Regions from separate parts of the Homo sapiens genome. Here regions 1 and 3 are each linked to region 2. The links come from fine-mapping of genetic effects on plasma protein levels. A gene starts in region 2. Each other region holds a variant in brackets. All regions are shown on one strand. Distances are between the middles of the regions. Region 1 has its middle 25 kb from the start of DMP1-AS1. Region 2 holds the start of MEPE (matrix extracellular phosphoglycoprotein). Region 3 has its middle 55 kb from the start of MEPE.

The links. PIP is the chance, under the fine-mapping model, that this variant and not a neighbour inherited with it causes the effect. The UK Biobank Pharma Proteomics Project read protein levels with antibody pairs (Olink). The fine-mapping took linkage between variants from a reference panel, not from the people measured, so its PIPs are less certain.
Region 1: its variant is fine-mapped to the plasma level of the MEPE protein (UK Biobank, PIP 0.96).
Region 3: its variant is fine-mapped to the plasma level of the MEPE protein (UK Biobank, PIP above 0.99).

What each region holds. Positions count from the first base shown.
Region 1 is chr4:87,752,865-87,761,054 of GRCh38, forward strand. No RefSeq gene overlaps it. Among named protein-coding and RNA genes, the nearest start is that of DMP1-AS1, 25 kb to the left of the region's middle. The variant A/G (reference allele first, on the strand shown) is at 4,428.
Region 2 is chr4:87,829,202-87,837,391 of GRCh38, forward strand. It overlaps MEPE (matrix extracellular phosphoglycoprotein), which reads left to right and starts at 3,768. Exons shown (of 4, transcript NM_020203.6): 1 at 3,768-3,813; 2 at 5,502-5,567. The coding sequence starts at 5,514.
Region 3 is chr4:87,884,016-87,892,205 of GRCh38, forward strand. It overlaps the pseudogene HSP90AB3P. Among named protein-coding and RNA genes, the nearest start is that of MEPE, 55 kb to the left of the region's middle. RefSeq lists an enhancer at 8,015-8,190. The variant T/C (reference allele first, on the strand shown) is at 3,972.

The DNA.
Region 1 (8,190 bases), 76 kb before region 2:
ACAATTTAAAACACAACTATGCCCTTCCAAAAGTCCCCCAAAATCTTAACTTATTCTGGCATTAACTTACAAGTTCAAGTTTAAAGTCTTATTTGGGACAAGCAAGGCCCTTTTGCCTATGACCCTAGAAAATTAAAAACAAGTTAGTTACTTTCCAGATACAATGGGGTACAAGCATTGGGTAAATACACCCATTCCAAATGGGAGAAATTGGCCAAAACAAAGGGAGTACAGGCCCCATGCAAGTCCAAAATCCAATATGGCAGTTATTAAACTTTAAAGTTTTAAAATCATTTTCTTTGACTTTATGTCTTACATTCAGATTACACTGATGCAAGAGGTGGGCTTCCACAGCCTTTGGAAGCTCCACCCCTGTGGCTTTGCAGGGTACAGCCCCCCTCCTGGCTGCTTTCATAGGCTGCTTTGAGTGTTTATGGCTTTTTCAGGTGCACAGTGCAAATTGTTGATGGATTTACCATTTTGGGGTCTGGAGCACAGTGGCACTTTTCTCACAGTTCCACTAGGCAATGCCCCAGTGGGGACACTGTGTGGTAGTTCCAACTCCATTTCCCTTCTGCACTGCCCTAGCAGAGGTTCTACATGAAGGCTCTGCTCCTGCAGCAAACTTCTGCCTGGACATCCAGGCATTTCTGCACATTACCTGAAATGTAGTCAGAGGTTTTCAAATTTTAATTCTTTACTTCTGTGCACCTGCAGGCCCAACACCACATGTAAGCCACCAAGGCTTGGGGCTCACATCCTTTGGAGCAATTGCCTGAGCTTTATGTTGGCCTCTTTTAGCCATGGCTGGGACGTGGGGCACCATGCCCCAGGACTGCACAAAGCAGCCAGGCCCTGGGGCCAGTACACAAAACTATTTTTCCCCCTAAGCATTTTGGCCTGTGATGGGAGGGGCTGCCATGCAGACCTTTGACATGCCCTGGAGACATTTTATCCATAGTTTTTGTGGTTAACATTTGGCTTCTTGTGACTTATGCAAATTTCTGCAGCCAGCTTGAATTTCTCCTTAGAAATTTTTTTTTCTATTGCATTGTTAGGCTGCAAATTTTCTGAAATTTTATGCTTTGCTTTCCTTTAAACATAAGTTCCAATTCCAAACCATATCTTTGTGAATGAATAAAAAATGAATGCTTTTAAGAGCACCCAAGTCACAGCTTGAATGGTTTGCTGCTTAGAAATTTTTTCTGCCAGATACCCTAAATTATCTCTTTTTTTTTAATTATACTTTAAGTTCTAGGGTACATGTGCACAATGTGCAGGTTTGTTACATATGTATACATGTGCCATGTTGGTGTGCTGCACCCATTAACTCGTCATTTACATTAGGTATATCTCCTAATGCTATCCCTCCCCCTCCCCCTCCCCCCACCCCACAACAGGTCCCAGTGTGTGATGTTTCCCTTCCTGTGTCCAAGTGTTCTCAGTGTTCAATTCCCACCTATGAGTGAGAACAGACAGTGTTTGGTTTTCTATCCTTGCGATAGTTTGCTCAGAATGATGGTTTCTAGCTTCATCCATGTCCCTGCAAAGGATATGAACTCATCCTTTTTTATGGCTGTATAGTATTCCATGGTGTATATGTGCCACATTTTCTTAATCCAGTCTATCATTGATGGACATTTGGATTGGTTCCAAGTCTTTGCTATTGTGAATAGTGCCACAATAAACATATGTGTGCATGTGTCTTTATAGCAGCATGATTTATAATCCTTTGGGTATATACCCAGTATGGGATGGCTGGGTCAAATGATATTTCTAGTTCTAGGTCCCTGAGGAATCGCCACACCGACTTCCACAATGGTTGAACTAGTTTACAGTCCCACCAACAGTGTAAAAGTGTTCCTAATTCTCCACATCCTCTCCAGCACCTGTTATTTCTTGACTTTTTAATGATCACTGTTCTAACTGGTGTGAGATGGTATCTCATTGTGGTTTTGATTTGCATTTCTCTGATGGCCAGTGACGATGAGCATTTTTTCATGTGTTTTTTGGCTGCATAAATGTCTTCTTTTGAGAAGTGTCTGTTCATATCCTTCACCCACTTTTTGATGGAGTTGTTTGTTTTTTTCTTGTAAATTTGTTTGTGTTCATTGTAGATTCTGGATATTAGCCCTTTGTCAGATGAGTAGGTTGCAAAAATTTTCTCCCATTCTGTAGGTTGCCTGTTCACTCTGATGGTGTTTTCTTTTGCTGTGCAGAAGCTCTTTAGCTTAATTAGATCCCATTTGTCAATTTTGGCTTTTGTTGCCATTGTTTTTGGTGTTTTAAACATGAAGTCCTTGCCCATGCCTATGTCCTGAATGGTAATGCCTAGGATTTCTTCTAGGGTTTTTATGGTTTTAGGTCTAACATGTAAGTCTTTAATCCATCTTGAATTAATTTTTGTGTAAGGTGTAAGGAAGGGATCCAGTTTCAGCTTTCTACATATGGCTAGCCAGTTTTCCCAGCACCATTTATTAAATAGGGAATCCTTTCCTCATTTCTTGTTTTTGTCAGGTTTGTCAAAGATCAGATGGTTGTAGATGTGTGGTGTTATTTCTGAGGACTCTGTTCTGTTCCATTGGTCTATATCTCTGTTTTGGTACCAGTACCATGCTGTTTTGGTTACTGTAGCCTTGTAGTATAGTTTGAAGTCAGGTAGTGTGATGGCTTCAGCTTTGTTCTTTTGGCTTAGGATCGACTTGGCAATGCAGGCTCTTTTTTGGTTCCATATGAACTTTGAAGTAGTTTTTTCCAATTCTGTGAAGAAAGTCATTGGTAGCTTGATGGGGATGGCATTGAATCTATAAATTACCTTGGGCGGTATGGCCATTTTCACGATATTGATTCTTTCTATCCATGAGCATGGAATGTTCTTCCATTTGTTTGTATCCTCTTTTATTTCGTTGAGCAGTGGCTTGTAGTTCTCCTTGAAGAGGTCCTTCACATCCCTTGTAAGTTGGATTCCTAGGTATTTTATTCTCTTTGAAGCAATTGCGAATGGGAGTTCACTCATGATTTGGCTGTTTGTCTGTTATTGGTGTATAAGAATGCTTGTGATTTTTGCACATTGATTTTGTATCTTGAGACTTTGCTGAAGTTGCTTATCCACTTAAGGAGATTTTGGGCTGAGATGATGGGGTTTTCTAAATATACAATCATGTCATCTGCAAACAGGGACAATTTGACTTCCTCTTTTCCTAATTGAATACCCTTTATTTCATTCTCCTGCCTGATTGCCCTGGCCAGAACTTCCAACAGTATGTTGAATAGGAGTGGTGAGAGAGGGCATCCATGTCTTGTGCCAGTTTTCAAAGGGAATTCTTCCAGTTTTGCCCATTCAGTATCACGTCTTACATGGCAATAGGCAAGAGAGAAGAATGAGTGCCCAGCAAAGGGGAAAGCCCCTTGTAAAACCGTCACATCTTGTGAGAACTTACTATCATGAGAACAGAATAGGGGAAACCACCCCCATGATTTAATTATCTCCACCTGGTTCCTCCCTTCCCATGACACATGGGGATTATGGGAACTACAATTTAAGATGAGATTTGAGTGTGGACACAGCCAAACCATTTCATACTTTTTGAAAAAAATACAACCGGATACTTATTTTTCCAATATAAAATTTAAAAATTAACATGAATTAAATAATTAAATGGGAAAATGAATAATACAAATCTTGTAAGAAGGCCTAGGAGACCTAACAACAGTCTATAGATGATGAAGTGCTTATATACTTGGAGCTAAAACAGAACAAAAACCAATATATTTTTAATAAAAATGAAGTAACAATGGATTTAAAGAAGATAATTACAACATATATTAAGACAAAGTGGTAGCTATACTAAAAATGGAGAAGTAAAAGACAGAAAAGTCAGCAAGAAATATGTATGGGAAACCTAGGTATCTCATAAATATGAAAAGATGGTCGAATTTACTGGTAGTGAAATACAGATTAAAGTAACAATGAATATTATTGCACACTTACCAAGCTGGCAAAGGTGTAATAAATAGCGCTCTCTCCAAAGTGGAAATTGTTGCCACTGCTTTTCTAAAAGCAGCTTAGAAATACGTGTTGAAATTTTAAAATTAATGCATATGCTTTGATTTAATACCCCTTCAGGGAATCTATCCTATGTAAATCAAGCTTGTGGTATACAATGACATGTTATAAGAAAGTCTATTGTACTCTTATTAATAGTGGGAAAAGAATAAATAAATAGATGAAAGCATAACAAATGACCATCAATTGGAGAATTATGGTATAAATTATGCCACAGTCATGCTATATGATATTTATTAAGAAGAAGAAATCAGAGCTAAATAGTTGAAGTGATATTCATGACATCTATATTGTTGTGTAAAATATATAAGATGGGTGGTTATACAGGTATTCACATATAATAATTTTTATAAAAGAAAAG[A/G]AAAAATATATGCATCTTATAGTCAATAAATGTCTGTATGTGATTCTATGAACATATAGAAATGAAGAAGTGGAAGGATACATACTAAGTTGTTATGAATGAGAGAATATATGTGGGGTGGAGGAGGCAGGTTATGAGTGTGAGGAGAAGGAAAAGGGAGAACCAAAAATGCAAAGAAAGGTTGTACTTGAAATAATAATCTGCTTATGATTATGGCCTCTAGCTGCATCCACATTGTTGCAAAGGACAGTTCTTTTTTATGGCTGGGTAGTATTCTATGGTGTGTATGAACCATATCGTCTTTATCCAATCACCATTCCTGGGAAGGCAGGTTGATTCTATGTATTTGCTATTGTGAATAGCACAGCAAAGAACATACGAGTGCATGTGTCTTTTTGGTATAAGGATCCATTTCCTTTGGGTATATACCCAGTAATGGGCTACTGGGTCAAATGGTAGTTCTGGTTTAAGTTCTCTGAGAAATCTCCAAACTTCTTTCCATAGTGGCTGAACTAATTTACGTTCCCACCAAGAGTGTATAAGCATTGCCTTTCTCTTCAGCCTTGCCAGCATCTGTTTTAATATCTCATGTCATCATTTATAAATGGGAACTAACCATTGAGCACAATGGATGTAAACACGGGAACAATAAACACTGCAGACTACCAGAAGGGGAGAGGGAGAGAAAGGGGAATGGGTTGCAAAAGTGCCTATTGGGTACTATGCTTACTACGTGGTTGCAATATACCCATATAACAAACCTGCACATGTACCCCCTGTGCCTAAAATAAAAGCTGAAATTAAAAAAATCAAATCTGCATTATGCATTAATGTAAAAGTATTTTTATATATATATACAAATAAAAGTTAAAGTTTAAAAAATAGAAAACAAGAACGTACTGCTTAATGCAGATCTCCCAAGAGAACTTCCGATTGAAGGCAGAACATGGCGTAAGTCCACCTGGGATCCCAGCTACTGGGCCCACCCTCAGGCTTGTTCCTGTCTCATTCCCTTTTTCTAACTATTTTAGTTTCAACATAACCTGGTTTGAATTTCCACAGATGGGTAGGAGACAGAAGAACCTCCAGGAAGTTGGAAATGGTATGAATACAAAAAGACATAAAGTGCTTCATGATTTTGGAGTTTCCTTTTGGGATGATGAAATGTTTTAGAACTACATAGACGTGATGATTGCACAACATTGTGAATGTACTAAATGCCAATGAGTTGCACACTTTTCAAAAGTTAATTTATGTTAAGTAAATTTTATCTTAATTTTTAAAAGGCATGAGGAATGTTACAGACATATATATATTCTGGGGTGCCATTTTCTGAACGTAGTTCAAGAGTCACAGCCACTTGGAGGCTTATGCCAAGCATATGGACACAGATGTGAGGTCATCTGTTTTAATTGTATCCTTATTTACCTTTGAAATACAGTTCTTCCATCTCCCAAAGAAGATGCTATCCAAAGATTGCTCACATTCATTGACATGAACTGAGGGCCAGTGACTAAAATGGACCCATTTGTGATTCTGGACTAATATTTCCCACAATTTCATCCATATCATTCAAAACTATACCATCTGGGAAAATAAGACTATATATTCTCAACTATAAATCTTGGGAGACCCTACGTGCCAGGAACTAGGAATCATGCAACCGGGATGTATCAACCTTCAGAAGCAACATACCCCCTCTGGGTCTCAGTCTCAAATAGTACTTGGTCACCTGAATAAATGTTTAGCCTATTAGAGTAAAAAATGTACAGACTACTAGATTAACTAATTAACCTTGTCTGATGCAATTTGCAGTCAGATATCTGTGCTGGCCCTCCCTCCTGGCCATTTTCTTCTTAGCAAAAACAGCACAGGGTCCATGCATTAAGGTCCTGGCTTTGGTCTCTATTTTATCTCATCACCAAATTCAGGGGCACAGACATCATCAACTGACTCCTCCACCCGAGACCCAGTCTCTTCCTCTCTCTGCCTGTGTGCACAGGACTGGCACCATGGGAAGCTCTCTGGAACTTAGGTCTTCTAGTTCAAGATTTGTGTGCCGGCACTCCTGGTGCTCAGATATCCCATGGAGTATCCTTTGGGAATAAGTACAAAGTTCAGAGGTGTGTGTGTGTGTGTCCAGTGTGTGACAAAGAGTTCATACTCATGAACACTGATGCTTTACCAAAATGACTAGGATTCTAATACACTAAAGAATAAACTCCCCATAGCACCTGTAGAAATTTATGCTCAGAATTATCATCTTCCATCTATATAGACTCCTTAGCTATCTTATTTCAGACTAGAACCCACATTTTTATTTACAAACTCTTTTCTACCCACTGAAATTCAATGCCATTAGCTGACCATTCTTAAACCAATAACCAGAGATAAATGATTGCCTCCCAGAATAGTATCTTCAGCACTACTCACCTACTAGCCAACTGGATAGTCTTCCTTCCCACCACTGAATTAACATAAAATTAATCCATCTACTCCTACACAAGCACTACAGTTGCCATCAAGATACTTCCTGGTTCCCAATTTCTACCCGTTATCTCCAACACAGATGATTTTCCTGGGAAATTCCTTGTTACACATCAATTTACTACAGTAACACTTTCAGCAAGACAAAGTACCTTGTGCATGTTAATTACAAGGGGAAAGCTAGTGCAAATGGAAAATTAAATACATTTTATTGATCTCTTCATTCCAGTCCCTGGATTTTCCTCTTTTCCCCACTGTTTTTGTCCCTTTGAACTCCCTAATACAATTTTGATTATATTAGTTGAAACGCTTTCTTGCCATACCTTGTACGCCTTTGCTTCTGTTTGCTTTCACCACATTCAGTCTACATCCTGCCAATTCTACAACCATTTATACCATCTGGCTTCTTCATCCCTACATCTGGGTTTCTGGGTGCTTCTGGAAAAAGTAACACAAAAGCACAGTTTTATGTCATTACTACTAATAAGAGTTTATCTCTGGCTCATTTCCAGTGTTGGAATTGAAGGTGAGATCTTGGCCGAAAAGGTGCATCTAAACTGAGGTTAAGGAAGAGCAGAAATCAAGACCCCTATGAAGGAAGGTAGTTTGTAGAGAAGAGACTAGGACAGGAAAGAGCAGAGAGATCACATGGAAAGAGAGACAGAGAGGCTGCCTCTGACATTCCAGTTTCATTATATTGCTCTAGTTGAGTTCCCATTTCTTGAGATATCTTGAGAGGATTTTTGTTCCCTGAAAACAAATGATTCCTCACTAAATACGGCCTACCCTTCCAGATAGCTTGGTTTCCACACTTGCCAGTCTGGCCATGCCCAAATTCACCCTGCTGGAAAATACAGTCTCCATTGGCTAACATTTTCTCAACTAACTCATGCGTTTGCATTGTGATATAACTTTTGAATTTTGTATTTAAATGTGTAAATGTTTTAAATGTGTGAGTATTTCCTCCTTGGATTGCAAGTTTCAGATTGTATTCTTCATTTCTTTTTATAACCTTGGATCCCATAACTTTATGATCATGTGTAGATGATCTCTAGATACTTGTTGAATGAACAAACAAGTAAGTAAATATCTCATTCTTCAGTAGTCTCTGGAAAGATGATAATAGCAAGAAGCTCTGGAGTCTTTGAGCACTCAGAAAGAGCCAGCAATAAGAGATGGGGAAGCCCTAATAGCAGAAATACTGAATACTGGTGGTGTGTCCTCTTCAAGGAGGACTAGGAGAATGGGCCAACAGAGTGAGCCACTCCCGAGGCCC
Region 2 (8,190 bases):
AATAGGCTCTCATTTTTTTTTGCTTTTGTCAATTGTAGGTTCTAAATTTAAAACTCAAGTTGAATTTTTTTATGTAGCTTTGAATTCATTTTAGCTTTGAGAGCAGTATATTTAGCTACTGCCAGTTCACCCCTTGGTAGGACTAGTAGCTAAGCCAGTTTTTTTCTCTTAAAACTCTATAAATTTTCTTATCCTAGAACACAGGTTTTTCTAGATCATAATTAATTTTCCATCACTCAAATGAAAGGGAAATCTTTTTCATGCACACTGAAATTTATTTGAAACTAAGAAAAATGCATTTGAGGAATATCTGAAATTATTTATAAAATTATAGCAATAAAAAAATGAACATTTCCTAAGGCACATATCAAGTGTTTGCTCTATAACTGGATCATTCAAAATATAAAGTTAATGTTATGAAACAGTGTAACAGCTTAAAACACTGCATTATATACACATTATTATAGAAATTCCTGAATTATTTATTGCTTCAATAGCATATCCAAAGTTGAAAATGAGCATTTTTTGTGGATTTCACTTGTCTTCCATTTAGAAAGCTCTATATTTCCATTCAGTCTCAGAGTTGGCTGAACACTCTTTGTTGCCTTCTTTCCTTCCTTGACTTCCATTCCCTTGTTAGCTCCTTTCTATATCACCCAAATCCTTTTTTTTTTTTTTTTTGGACTTTGCTGAAATTCTGGTCATGGATACTGTGCTCCTTATTTTCAGTTGGAGAAACTGAGGCACAGAAAAGTTCAAATTAGTTGTTTAATCAACTTGCCACAGTAAACAGGTGGTAGAGTCAGGATTTGAACTCAAGTCTGTTTGCCTCCAAAGCTACTAGAGTTCTAGAGTTCAATATTTCCACTGTCAATGACAATATTCAAATATTCTAAAATCTATGCTTGAATGGTTGTAAGTCAACAGTGGCCCCACCCAATAGCTCAAACCTAGTCCTGGAAGATGTTCTTAAAAGCAGTTCTGTAAAAGCAGAACTACTGTTTGATCCAGTAATCCCATTACTGGGTATATACCCGGAGGAATATAACACATTCTTCCATAAAGACACATGCACACGGCTGTTCATTGCAGCCCTGTTCACAATGGGAAAGACATGGAATCAACTTAAATGCCTATCAGTGACAGACTGGATAAAGAAAATGTGGTATGTATACACCATGGAATATTATGCAGCTATAAAAATGAAAGAGATCATGTCCTTTGTGGGAACATGGCTGGAGCTGGAGGCCATTATCTTCAGCAAACTAACGCAGGAACAGAAAACCAAATACCACATGTTCTCACTTATAAGTGGGAGCTAAATGATAAGAACTTATGAACACAAAGAAGGAAACAACAGACATTGGGGTCTACTTGAGGGTGAAGGGTGGGAAGAAGGAGAGGAACAGAAAAGATAACTATTGGGTACTGAGCTTAATACCTGGGTGATGTAGTAATATGTACAACAAACCCCAGGGACATGTGTTTATCTATGTAATGAACCTTCACATGTACCTCCAAACCTAAATAAAAATTTTTTTAACAAGAAGACATGAGGTGAGGGAGAGGAGGAAAAGCAGCTCTGGATACTCAAAAGAGGAACAGCAGAATTTAGATATGATAAAAAAAAAAAAAGAGAGAGTTAGCTTGACCTAGAAAAGGCACCATTTTCTCAGGTAGAACTTATGAAATACTGTTTTGTTTGTGTTTTATGTTTTGGTTTTTGTCTATTTGGAGGGTTGAGATAAATTGACAGTTTACACTTAAATCTTATTATATATCATTTGTATATATAATATACAACTGTTAAAGGTGTGTTTCACTGTAGGTAGTTCTTATCACAAAGTATAGGTTAAATAACTCTTACATAATTTCTTATTGATGCTTTAATATATAGTCATAATGTCAATGACCTTTACAGGTATTATAATATTTTTATATTAAGTGGAACCTCTCAAACTATTACAATTATTTTGGTAGCCAGTTTGGGCAAAACAAGAGAGCAGGCAATCGCACTGGAAAGGCTTATTCTAGTATAGGTTTGTTACTTGTTTCATTAAGAAATTGAGTGTCTTAAATTGTCCATCTTATAAAATTTGTCTAAATCCAAACTCACAATATTTTCCTCAAAACCATTTTCTTCTGCATTTTTTCCAATATGAAGAAAAAATCAACTTTACTCTTCCAGTTGCTCAGGTCAAAACCTTGGTGTCATCCTGATTCTTGATTGTTTTCTCACAGGCCACATCTGGTACCTCAGCAAATCCTATTACCATTTTTCCCCAAACTTCTTCAGAATATGACCACGTCTCATCATCCCTTCTGCCGCACTCAGGTTCAAGCCTCCATCATCTCTGGCTGGGATTATTACAAGAGCTTCCTAGCCATTCTCTCTGCCTTTTTCCTACTTCAGTCACTCCTCAATCATGCCTGTGCTTAAAACCTCCAAGGACTTTTCTTCTCACTCATAGCAATGTCAAAAGCATTGCAATGACCTACAGGTCCTATACCATCTGCCATCTAATACCCTTCTGACCTCATTTGTTGCTATTCCCCTTGCTCAGGCCTCCAACCAAAGTGGCCTCTTCTCTGTTCCTGGAACAAGTCACAAGGCTTTTATTTCTGGGGCACTATTTTTCTTATTTCTTCTTCCTGGAATGGTCTTCCCATAGACAGTCATATGGCTGCAGGCTTATCTGAGTCTGTTCATGCTGCTACTACAGAATACCACAGACTGGGTAATTTATAAAAAACAGAAATTTATTTCACACAGTTCTGGAGGCTGGGAATTCCGCAATGAAGAGGCCAGCATGTTCATTGCCTGACGAGGGCTGTCTATCTCTTCTTCCAATTTGGCACCTTGCTACTGCATCTCCAGAGGGGACAAATGCTGTGTCTTCACACTGCAGACAAGCAGAAGGGCAAAAAGGGACTAGCTAGTTTCTTCTTGCCCTTTTATAAGGTCATTAATCCCATTCATACTGGGGTCTGCCTTCATGACTTAATCACCTTCTAAAGAGCCCATCTCTCAATACTGTCACCTTGGGTTTAAGTTCTAACATGGGAATTTTGGAGGGACACGTACATTGAAACCATAACAAGGTCTTTACTCAAAAGTTGCCTTCTCATTGAGGCCTTCCCAGGACTTCCTATCTAAAATTTCAACCCAGTGTCCCCACCCCCAATGCTTGTTACTCCCCAACAATACTTTTTCTCCTTAGACTTAGTATATGTCACTATCTAATCTATTTAACTCATTTATCTTGTTTATTATCTGTCTCCCTTATTGGATTCTAAGCTCCAGGAAGACAGGGATTTTTTTCTGTCTTGTTTTGTTCACTGCAGTTTCGCCAATGCCTGTCACACAGTAGGCACCTAAAACATTTTTGTTAAATGTTGCTGAATTTCACTTAGATAAAATTGACATCATAAACTTTCTACATAAAAGGATAGCAAAAATGTTTTCCATTTCTAAACTTGTTAGGTATTCAGTCAGTCCTAATTAGCAGTTCTGAAATCAATTTTGATTATCTGACAACATGATGTCCAAACTGAGGTATTTATATTTTCTGTTTATCCCACTTTCTGGAACATTTGATAGTAGCTTTCTACCACAAACACATTTTTAGATTAAAATTACTTCACCCCCTATGGTTATCTGTGGGCGCTTGTAACAAATTGTTTGCTAGCGCTGAGTGAGCCAGTGCTGATTGGCCATTGGGAACTCTAACAAACTTTAAATTTCAGCAAAATGCCCAGAGACTTCTAATCCTGCAACAAGAAGCCAGGTATTCTGAAGGTGAAAGATACCAGGTAATTTGGCTTTCATGTTCTTGACAGCAAATAGCTTTATATCATAGTTGTTTACGTTTTTAAGATGCTTGCCACCCAAGTATGGTTTTATTACTTTTGAAAATCTTCTCTACTGAGCAAAACTGTGTAATATTTGGTGCTTTGTTTTATAAAATAGGAAATGCGTTACCATGCTCTAGAAATCATCAACTAAAATTGATGATTTGATAGCAACTTTCTCTTTTTTTTTGTTATTAGCATTATCAAGATCCACAGTAACTCAGACTTCAGTTTTCTTCTATCCCTTCACTTAACAAACTGCAATCAGGAAAATCTGATCTTATTCATACTTTGAAACCTCATCTGTGTTGATATTTCTACTGATGAGCATTAACTCATTTCATAAGTTACTTACGTTGTCCTGATCTATAAAATGCTTGGAAGGGTAAACTATAGTTAGAATTTAGATCCTTCTAATTGCATTAATTTAGAAAAACATAGCCTAGGATTTTAGAATATATTTAATAGTTACAATCATTTCTCCAAATACCAGCTTTTCCTTGAGGTGTTTAAAGATTGCAAGAATATTTAGATTATTTTTTCCCATAAAAACAAGTTTTTCTTCAAGAAATCTCAGAGTGGCATAAATTTATTGTTTTCACAATATAATAATAAGATCAATAGTCCAAAGACATGTTGACTTTTTTCCAATCTAATGGCTACTTAAGTGAGCTCACTAGTTCCTGTTGGTATATTTACCAAAATATAAACAAATACCTTTATTTGTAACTAAATGTTAGTATTTTGAACATCATTTTGTTGAGCCCAATATAAAATATGATTTGCCTTTAAGTCAACTGTACATGGATTTTTCTGTAATAAGATAAAAGAATAGAAAGTTATTTAAGGTGGCAGAGAGTCTTGATGAAGAAAACTGGGTCTAGAGCCACATTGCCTGGATACTAATCCCAGTTCTGCCCCTTAATATTTGTGAATTCTAAAGCAAGTTATTTGATCTTTTTGTGTCTATTTCCTAATCTATACAACAGGCATAGTAACGCCGCCTAACTTGTAGGGTTGTTGTGAGGCTCAAATAATTGAATGCATGCAAAATTCTTAGACCCAGTGCTTGGCTCATTTTAGTATTCAATAAATGTTAGCCATTAATGTCAGTGTTGCAAAAATTAGTTCACTCTCCAGCCCATGGATGGCTACTAATTCAGACACATTGCTAATGAACATGAGACACAGATTAGGGCACCAGCCCGGAGGCAGATAAGCTTTCCTCACAGTGCAATCTGCTACCCTGACAAACTTAGAGTGTGTTATGAGCTGCTACATCAACTTAATGTCATTTTGAATTACACAAATAATTAAACAATCTCTTTCTAAAGACAAGAGGAAGAAGAGCTGATGATAGAGCAAATAAATGTGTCTATAAAATATATTTCTATCAACTGACTTTACTGTTTTAATGATATTGAATAATTTTCATTTTCACATTGGAATAACTAGACATATGAAAGTTCTTAAAATGTCCACACTCGGGTATAAGCAAGTTATACATAGTCTATACACACACATACACAAAAGGATATGAACTGCCAAGGGGAAGGGTGTTTATATATTCCTATGTGTTTTATCTCTTCTTATGGCTGCAGTTTATAACTGGCAATGCTTTGTGGTAAGATATTGTTGTCTTTTTACAGAGATTCTCAAAGATGCGAGTTTTCTGTGTGGGACTACTCCTTTTCAGTGTGACCTGGGCAGCACCAGTAAGTATTTACAAATTCAATTATATTTCAGATAATCTCTTGCTCTCTTCATTTGTTTTTCTTTCAAGCAACGTCTATTTAAATTAGTAGCATCTACCTAATTCAGTTATTTTAAAAAGAACCAAGCAAACAGAAAGCATCTAGCACTTAACACTCTTAACAAAGGAGGTTCTCAATAAACATGTGCTGAATTATGAGATCTGACAACATTGTCTTTTAAGGAACACCAAAAACAGATTTTTTGAGAAAACCAAGAGGCAGCCGCAGCATTTCAAATCAGCTGATACTAATGAGTGATACTCAAAGACTCAAATTATAACATGGTAAAATAATCTTTGACTATTTTCCTGTAAACTTAAAGAATTTGACATGAATGTTTTAAAGCTAACCAGCTAGATTTAGTAAATAGATAAAAATGCAAAGAGACAAGAACTCTTCTGTATTTCTTGCAACACCCCAATACTGTGGGATCCTACTTGTGATTTTCTCTTCATCAGCGAGGCTAGAGGTGGGACGTAGTACCTCCAAGCTTAACCCAAATCAAGCTCCTACTTCCTTGTGTGTCTTTTCTTCCCTCTGACTCACCCAGTTGAATATTCAGGATGTGACCAAATTATCTTGTGAAAATGCTGAGTGTTAGTTATTTTCTGCAATGCAGACACAGTGCTAATTAGATAATGTCTGAGCAGCATCCTAACTTATCAGAATAACCTTTTTGGTTGGAGAACCATGGAAACAAATAGTCATCCCATTGCCAATCATACTTATATATAGGTCCTGAGTGAGTGGGTGACTGCTAGGGTAACCAGGCTGATGAGGATGACCAGGGAAGCAGAGGGCCTCATGGAGGGCAGTGGAAGTTGGGGAAATGTGTTCCCTTCTCCGCACACACTCTGTGCAACAAGGGTGTGCAGTACAGTACTGTGGAGGCTGTACTGCTCACAACACACATTTGCGAGACCCCATGCACAGACCTCACTCAATCAAGGCCTAGAGGCTCAGGTGCCTCTCCCACCTCTCACGGTGGAAAAATGAGTCTTGCTGACCTAGCTCAAGTTGGCCAGCTGAAGATTTTATTTTGAGCAACATGTTCCAAGAAGCAGCTGGAGTGGGGCTTTCTCATCATTTTCCAGTAAATGTGCTATGTCAACATTGATTCAGTGACCACTGATCAGAAGAGGATGCCAGCTTTCCTGCCCAGAGGCAGACAATGCCATCTCCATTACAGGGCCACATTCAAGCCTAAGACATCTGCTTGGGGGTATAGAGGGGACAAGGGAGGGATGCGTATTTCAAATGAAAGCAGCTCAGCAAGGATGCAGAGGCAACATTTGTAACTGTGAATCATTAAATATGATGTTTTCTTCCAGGTATATAGATGCCATTTTAGTAATTACCTGAATTTTTAAATGATAGATTGGTGGCTTAAGAAATTAGTATATACTCAGCCACTTGCATACGTCTTAGAATTATAAGCCAAATTCTAAATGATTTTTAAAAGGAAGAAAATGAATGTTTATTAGGCTATGCAATTCGGTTAATATTCATCAAGATGCAGTTAGACTAGAAAGACTTTGTTATAAGTCACAATAAATCAAAACTGTACCGAGGTACTCTATATTGTCAAGTATGTTTCTAATCCATATGTGTGTGTGTGTGTGTGTTCTGTAAGAAGATCCCTGACACCCCATACTATCATTTCTTTCTTTTGCTTAATATCTGCCCATCTCATTTTTATGCTTTCTTCTTCCTATAGTCCAATTTCCAGAACTGTTTGCCCTGGTTTTATATTTTTGAAGAGTGATATAATTGTCCAAATTTATATTCACATGATCATATAAGAATCAACATAAGAAATGCAATAAAGGATAAAACTATAAAAGATGCCTTGACGATAATTAATATAAAGTTTAGGAACATTTCCTCTTATTACTAAATGCTTTTTCATATTTAATCATTCAAAAATTTATTATTTTAACCCTGGGACTTTGAGGCAGAAGATTTAAATTAAAATATCTTCTCTACTTCTACTGCAACTACCAACTATGAGTGTAGGCACTTCTGTTTCTTCTACTGCTCATCTTATAAAGGTTACTTTGGGACTCATATGAGATTATAAGTACAAAAGCAGTTTACAAACTATAAAGAGTCCTATAAATAGAAGGTGTTATTGATAAACTATTGTTATTTTCTAGAATGGAATTGAATATTAGGCAGCTATGCCTTGGAGTCCAGCCATGGAGGTGCTTTCTAAACTTCTGAGTTTTATATTTTGAAGATGATTTTATCTGCCAGAGTCCAGTCCAGAAAACAAAATCCACTACAGGGAGCTCAGTAGAGCGACTTTCTAAGGGAAGCTAGCTATAAAGTATAAGGAAGAACAGAAAAGCCAACCAGGGGTGGTGAGACCACCCAAGGATCGAAGCTATTACCAGGCTTAGGGCTGGAAGGAAAAAAAAAGGTGCTGCTCCTAGGCCCCTGGCTGGGGGAACTAGGACCACAAAGGAGATGTACCCAACTCTAGAGATGCAGCCCCAAACACGGAGAGTAGAGAAGGACATACCCTGGCTTCTCTCTCCTTCCCCCCCTCCAGACTCATGCCAGGCCTCCTTCACCCAAACCC
Region 3 (8,190 bases), 55 kb after region 2:
ACACTTTTGAATAACCAGATCTCACAAAAACTCACTCACTATCATAACAACAGTACCAGGAAGGAAATCCATCCCCATCATCCAGTTAACCTCCCACCAGGCCCTCTAACATTGGGGATTACAAATCAACATAATATTTGAGTGGGGACACAGATCCAAATTCTATCAAGGATTTTAACAGTAGAAATGAAAAGCAAATCTAAACAAATAACAAAAAATAAATATTCCTTACAATCATTTATTCAATTTTATGACAAGTCCATTAACATGATTGTACACAGTACATCATCAGAGGCAATAATGGGAAATATGTGCAGGCCCACATCTTTCCAAAATGCATATTCTGTATTATCTGAATATTTCCTAGCAGACGCTAGAAAAAATAAATGCTCCTCCCCAAAGCAAAGAGTGGTCAAGTGTCCATTTCTTCTTGGTTCTACTATTGCAAGAGGAAGAATTGTTTTCTTTTAGGAAAAAAAAAATTAGCTTCCTTCAAAGGCATTAAAGAAAAAGGGAAAATAAGGTGGCCACAAATCTTATTCTGGTAAAGTGCACCTGCTTAGGTATCTTATGTAAGTCTTATTTTTTACACTCTTTCTTTACCTGAACTCCCCAATACCTACACACACACAAAAAGAACATGTCTCTCTTCCATTGACACACACAAAAAAACTTTACTCACAAAAGAAGCAGAATTGTATCTTTTTTTTTTTTAAGTAAATTGATCTCTGCAAGCCATCACTTCATTGTGCCAGGAACTGGGTTTTAAACCCTATCTTCTCATCTAGGAATTGATTTGTGTTTAAAGGAAAAATAAAGCAGGAACAGGGACATTTCCTTTTTCACGCTCATTTGAAAAAAACAAAAACAAAAAACTAATGGTGAGGTTCTGCCTGGCCTAAATGCTTTCCAAAGGAGACAGTAAGCTCCCACACAAAAAAACTAATAACTTAAAATTTCCCCCTCTCTTGTCCTCATTTGGGCTTAAAATATTACCAAGTATTAATTTTAGTGTTCTGCCTGGCTATTAAATCACAAACCACACTGGCTGGTGAGAAACGAAGAAAGAAAAGAACCATTATTCACAGGCAAACCAGACAGTCCCACAAATAGCTCTATAAAAGTAAACTAAGTTATAATTTCTCTCTCCCTCATGAGTCAGAAGAGAAGGGTTCTAACTATCCAACTATGCAAGTTTGGGGTGGGAATTTTTAATTGGACAAGCAAACAATTTACTTAGAGATAAGAGATTAGCAGAGAAAGTATGATCGGGTTGGTAAAGATTTGCCTACATTTTCTCTTCTGATAAGACGGCGATACAGAGGCCAGAGAGCCTGAGACCCGATCAGACTTCCAGATGTGTTTCCTGCCACACGTGACTGCACAGCACAGACGGTTACACTGTCATTCTACCATGTCACCGTGCCTTTCTTTCTGCCTTGTCCAACCCGTTTCTCTCCACCTGCTGTCTATGACTTCTCCTTTCTTCCCTCAAAAATTCTCCACTCTCACCCTCCATTAGGCATCTCCCTCTCCAAATCTCTCAAAATATTGCCCATTTCTATTGTATGGTCTACCCTCATTTGTCTTTCTTAGTGTTCGCTGGGCACATCTTCCAACTAGACTTTCGTAAGGTCTGTGAGAATGATGAACTTGTCCTTTCTTATCTTTCAGTTCTCTCATGTGCTTTGAACATGAAATAAGTACACTACGTTTGCTAAATGTTTTCTAATTGATGTTCTTTTGTTAGTACATCCTTTTATTTCCACCCGTCTCCTCATACACCATGGAATAAAGCCAAGAATAAAGCTGGAGTGAGGGAGATGAAATGTGAAGTTGCGTGTAGCAGGTGGAGGAAGGAGGGAAGGAGGAAAGCTCGGGGGAGAGGAACAAGGATACATGAAGACAGAAATGTACAGTCAGACTTCCCTGAACTTGAGCCCAAGAGGCAAAGAGATAGAAAACCCAGATAAATTTCATGACAGGGTTGGGCATTTCCTAGAGCAGAAGGAATAATTGCCTGGCTTTCCGGGGAACAGTCAAGAAGAGATCAAGCTTCACAAGGAAACATAACATCCGAAAAGATGCTCCCCAGGATATAACAGAGACACAGTAGTGTGCTGTGATTAGGCAGACAGACAGTCAGATTAGCACTTGTTCTCCTCTCTAAGCTCTGAAGTGCGAGAGAGAAATCCGGAAACTCCAATGTGCCCCAGAGTAGGCACAGAAGAGAGCTGACCAGAGGGGTGGAAATCTTGCTGAGGGACAGCCATGGTGAATGACGTCATAAAGCAGGCAGGCTGGATTAAGGCTGCATGGATGACATGGCAGAGATGTGAGGGGCCTACAATGCCAGCAACCCCAGGTAGGGTTAAGGCAGCAGAGGAGAACCACTGGGCCCGACCCAACCGGGAGAATAGGTAACAAATTCACCAGCTGCAGATTTTGTCAGAGGTCAACAGGGCATTCAGCATCCACCAGAGGCCCCAGCAGAGAGTACAAGAGCAAAGGAATTTTCTTCTTGCTTTAACTAAGCAAGTTAGTGCTATAGTCAAGTTTAATTGATGTCTGCAGGAGGAATCACCAAAAAGGAGTAAAACTTGTTTCCAGTTACCAGTACAGAGATTCCCAATTAAAAAAGATATGGGCAGTACAAGGGCCCCACAAACTTTCAGTCCATGTACCAAATGAAGACAGAATTCACTCCAAGAGGCCACATACACCAGATCCAATCAGGGTCAATTTAAGTTCATCATAATGCCACGTTTTGTTGTCACTTGTTTTCTGACCCAACACTTTGCCTAACTTGTACTAACCTGCTCAGGGAAATTGTATCATATTCTCAGAGGTGGAAAGGTCTTGTATAAACAGAAATAAGTATTTACGGAAAAGAGTTATAAACTGAGAGTACAACAGGTTCAAGGCTATGGCTTTTGCAGGCTGGAAAAAGTAGTCATACGTAGGTGAGTGTGTTCTCCCCCACCTTAAAGTAGGGCCCTCTTTATCCTTCCACCAAACCAAACAAAAACACACAGACAACAATTACTCTTTCAAGCATTAGCTCCCAAAAGGCAAATTTGGATGACAATTTCATGGGTGACAGAAACACATATGCCACACAGAAAATAAAACAATAATAATAAAACACACTAAACATTTCTATTTTCTTTCAAATTCCCTGTCAGATGCCAAGTTCATATTTCTTCTCCTGGCTCAATCCTTCTCCAAGATAGTCTTCAAAATCTCGTCTAGCAAAGTTCACATCTGTCCCTAAATTTGCAAACCACATTAGGAAAATAAAATCCTAAATTCTAAAATGAACCCAGTGGTAATTGAGCAAACATCTCTTCCTCTTTCTCTTCCTCATGCCTCCACCCTAAGCAGAAGTCTCCATCCAAAAATAGTGGATTTATTCACAGGGGTACCTAATAAAAGTACATTAGATGCTGCCTATATATTTATAATTGTGTCACATGCATGTAGTTGCAGAAATCTGGTTTATAACTTAGGTGTGGAATTTAAAACTAGTAAAGCGATTGTATGTTCTCATGTGCCTCACTTTGTCTCCTGTCTAATGAGACATGAGACATAATGTTGCATAGATTCTCAATGCTCAGGCATATGCACTCATGTTAATATGCACTTTATTTTAATGCCATACTGAAAGACTAGGCACAATCATAGATGCTCAAGTATCACTGATATTGTAGGCCCTCTTCCAGCTACAACCTTGATTGTTTTCATACACACATTCTTTCCATCCACATCACATTTTCATTTTTCTCCATTTTTTAAATACGTCACGATTTTTAAAATGTGATCCTGTACCTAGCAGTGGCTTATTCTCTTATAGGTCTCCAAATCAGAGACAGGGAGATGAAATAGCTTAGGTAATTTATGAGTATTCCCATCATTTTCTAATGTGAGATATTCTTAAAAGTGTCTGGCTTTTGCCCTCAAATAAAGCTAAA[T/C]TGGAATATCAGTTCTGCCACTTGTTAGTTTATTGATCTTGGATGAGTAAGAATCTCTCTGAGCCACAGTAAAATAATTAATAAAGCTTGTTATTACTTGTAAGAACAACATAACAATTGAGTGCCTACCATAACATTTGTGTGAAGATTTAATGAGATGATAAATTTAAGTTTCTCAGCCAGTACCTGGCACATAGCAAGCCAGTATGTATAAACTGTCATAAGGCAGGTGCTGGGCTAAAACTTTAATGTCTGTTATTGAATTTAATCCAGACAATACCCCTAGGACCTGCATACTTTACTGTCTCCATTTTAGCCAATGAGGAAACTGAGGGCTAAAAAGGTTAAATCACTTGCCTAGGATCACACAGTTGAAAATAATGAAGGGCCAAGTCTGTGTAACTCCTTATCTGTGAGATGGGCATAATAATTCTTTCCCTACAGTACTGTTCTCAGGATTAAATGAGCTAATACTGTAACATGTAACATGTAACAGTCACTCAGTACGTTTTCATTTCCTTCCTGTTCTGCCCATGTGTAACTCCTGACTTACAATTTATCCCATCAAATTAAAAATTATTAATAACTAAGATCAGAGCAGAATTGAAGGAGATAGAGATATAAAAACCCTCCAAAAAAGCAATGAATCCAGGAGCTGATTTTTTTGAAAAAATTAACAAAATAGATAGACCGCTAGCCAGGCTAATAAAGAAGAAAAGAGAGAAGAATCAAATAGACACAATAAAAAATGATAAATTGAATATCACCACTGATCCCACAGAAATACAAGCTACCATCAGAGAATACTATAAACACCTCTATGCAAATGAACTAGAAAATCTAGAATAAATGGATAAATTCCTGGACACATACAACCTCCCAAAACTAAACTGTCGGGGGAACCCACCCCCGATAATTCAACGTTATTTCACGTAGGTTCTTTTCTATTTCCCTAAGTGTCTGCTGGTCTGAGAAATAAAGGCAAAGAGCACAAAAGAGAGAAATTGTAAAGCTGGGTGTCCAGGGGAGACATTATGTGTCGGCAGGTTCCGTGATGCCCCCCAAGCCACAAAACCAGCAAGTTTTTAATAGTGATTTTCAAAGGGGAGGGAGTGTACAAATAGGGTGTTGGGTCACAGAGATCACATGCTTCAGAAGGTAATAAAATATTACAAGGCAAATGGAGGCAGGGTGAGGTCACAGGACCCGGGTGAAATTAAAATGACTAATGAAGTTTCGGGCACGCATTGTCATTGATAACATCTTATCAGGAGACAGGGTTTGAGAGCGGACAACCGGTCTCACCAAAGTTTATTAGGCAGGAATTTCCTCGTCCTAATAAGCCTGGGAGCGCTATGGGAGACCAGGGCTTATTTCTTCCCTTACCTACAACCGTAAAAGACAGACATTCCCAGAGCAGCCATTTCAGAGACCTTCCCCTAGGAAGGCATTCTCTTTGCTGAAAAAAAGAATTCAGCGATATTTCTCCTATTTGCTTTTGAAAGAAGAGAAATATGGTTCTGTTCTGCCCAGCTCTCAGGCAGCCAGACCTAATGGTTATCGCCCTTGTTCCCTGAACATCGCTGTTATCCTGTTCTTTTTTCAAGGTGCCCAGATTTCATATTGTTTAAACAATTTGTGCAGTTAACGCAATCATCACAGGGTCCTGAAGTGACATACATCCTCAGCTTACAAAGATGACGGGATTAAGAGATTAAAGACAGGCATAGGAAATCACAAGAGTATTGACTGGGGAAGTGATAAATGTCCATAAACTCTTCACAATTTATGTTCGGGAGATTGCAGTAAAGACAGGCATAAGAAATTATAAAAGTATTAATTTGGGGGAACTAATAAATGTCCATGAAATCTTCACAATTTATGTTCTTCTGCCATGGCTTCAGCCAGTCCCTCCATTCGGGGTCACTGACTTCCCGCAACACTAAACCAGGAAGAAGTCAATAACAAGAATTATTATTTTACACCCAGCTTTACAATTTCTCTCTTTTGTGCTCTTTGCCTTTATTTCTCAGACTGGCAGACACTTAGGGAAATAGAAAAGAACCTACGTGAAATAATGTTGAATTATCGGGGGTGGGTTCCCCCGATAGTTTAGTTTTGGGAGGTTGTATGTGTCCAGGAATTTATCCATTTCTTCTAGATTTTCTAGTTCATTTGCATAGAGGTGTTTATAGTATAGAATAAATCTTGTTATTGAATAGATCAATAACAAGTTCTGAAATTGAGGCAGTAATTAATAGCCTACCAACCATAAAAAGCACAGGACCAGATGGATTCACAGCTGAATTCTACCAGTGGTATAAAGAGCTGGTACCATTCCTCCTGAAATGATTCCAAACAATTGAAAAGGAAGGACTCCTCCCTAACTCATTTTATGAAGCCAGCATCATCCTGATACCAAAACCTACCAGAGACACAATAAAAAAAAGAAAACTTAAGGCCAATATCCCTGATGAATATTGATGTGAAAATCCTCAATACAATACTGGCAAACCAAATCCAGCAGCACATTAAAAAACTTATCCACCACAATCAAGTCAGCTGCATCCCTAGGATACAAAGCTGGTTCAATATATGCAAATCAATAAATGTAATCCATCACATAAACAGAAGCAAAGACAAAAACCACATGATTTTCTCAATAGATGCAGAAAAGGCCTTTGATAAAATTCAACATCTCTTCAGGTTAAAAACTTTCAATAAACTAGGTATTGATGGAACATATCTCAAAATAATAAGAACTATCTATGACAAACCCACAGCCAATATCATATTTAATTGGCAAAAGCTGGAAGCATTCCCTTTGAAAACTGGTACAAGACACAGATGCCCTCTCTCACCACTCCTATTCAACATAGTATTGGAAGTTCTGGCCAGGGCAATCAGGCAAGATAAATAAAGAGTATTCAAATAGGAAGAGAGGAAGTGAAACTGTCTCTGTTTGCAGATGACATGATCCTATATTTAGAAAACCCCACCATCTGAGCCCAAAAACTCCTTAAGCTGATAAGCAACTTCAGCAAAGTCTCAGGATACAAAATCAATGTGCAAAAATCAAAAGCATTCCTCACACCAACAATAAACAAGCAGAGAGCCAAATCATGAACAAACTCCTATTCACAATCACTACCAAGAAAATAAAATACCTAAGAATACAGCTAAGATGGGATGTGAAGGACCTCTTCAAGGAGAAACATGAACCACTGCTCAATAAAATAAGAGTGAACACAAACAAATGGAAAAACATTCCATCCTCATGGATAGGAAGAATGAATATTGTGAAAATGACCATGCTGCCCAAAGTAATTTATAGATTTGATGCTATTCCCATCAAACTACCACTGACATTCTTCACAGAATTAGAAAAGAATTACTTTAAATTTCATTTGGAATCAAAGAAGGTCATGTATAGCCAAGACAATCCTAACCAAAAAGAACAAAGCTGGAGACATCATGCTACCTGACTTCAAACTATACTACAATAATGCAGTAACCAAAACAGTGTGGTACTGGCACCAAAACAGACAAAGACCAATAGAATGGAGCAGAGACATCAGAAATAATGCCACACATCTACAACCATCTGATCTTCAACAAACCTGACAAAAACAAGCAACAGGGAAAAGATCTCCTATTCAATAAATGATGCTGGGAAAACTGGCTAGGCATATGCAGAAAACTGAAACTGGACCCCTTCCTTACACCTTATACAAAAATTAACTCAAGATGGATTAAAGATGCTCTCAAGTCACTCCAGCACAGCGTTGGTGCTGCCTGGGTATCAGAAAGCAAGCTCACATTGCTCTCCAGTACGTGTAAGCCTTTTCTTTTCAAGATGCCTGAGGAAGTGCACCATGGAGAGGAGGAGGTGGAGACTTTTGCCTTTCAGGCAGAAATTGCCCAACTCATATCCCTCATCATCAATACCTTCTATTCCAACGAGGAGATTTTCCTTCAGGAGTTGATCTCTAATGCTTCTGATGCCTTGGACAAGATTCGCTATGAGAGCCTGACAGACCCTTCAAAGTTGGACAGTGGTAAAGAGCTGAAAATTGACATCATCCCCAACCCTCAGGAACGTACCCTGGCTTTGGTAGACACAGGCATTGGCATGACCAAAGCTGATCTCATAAATAATTTGAGAACCATTGCCAAGTCTGGTACTAAAGCATGCATGGAGGCTCTTCAGGCTGGTGCA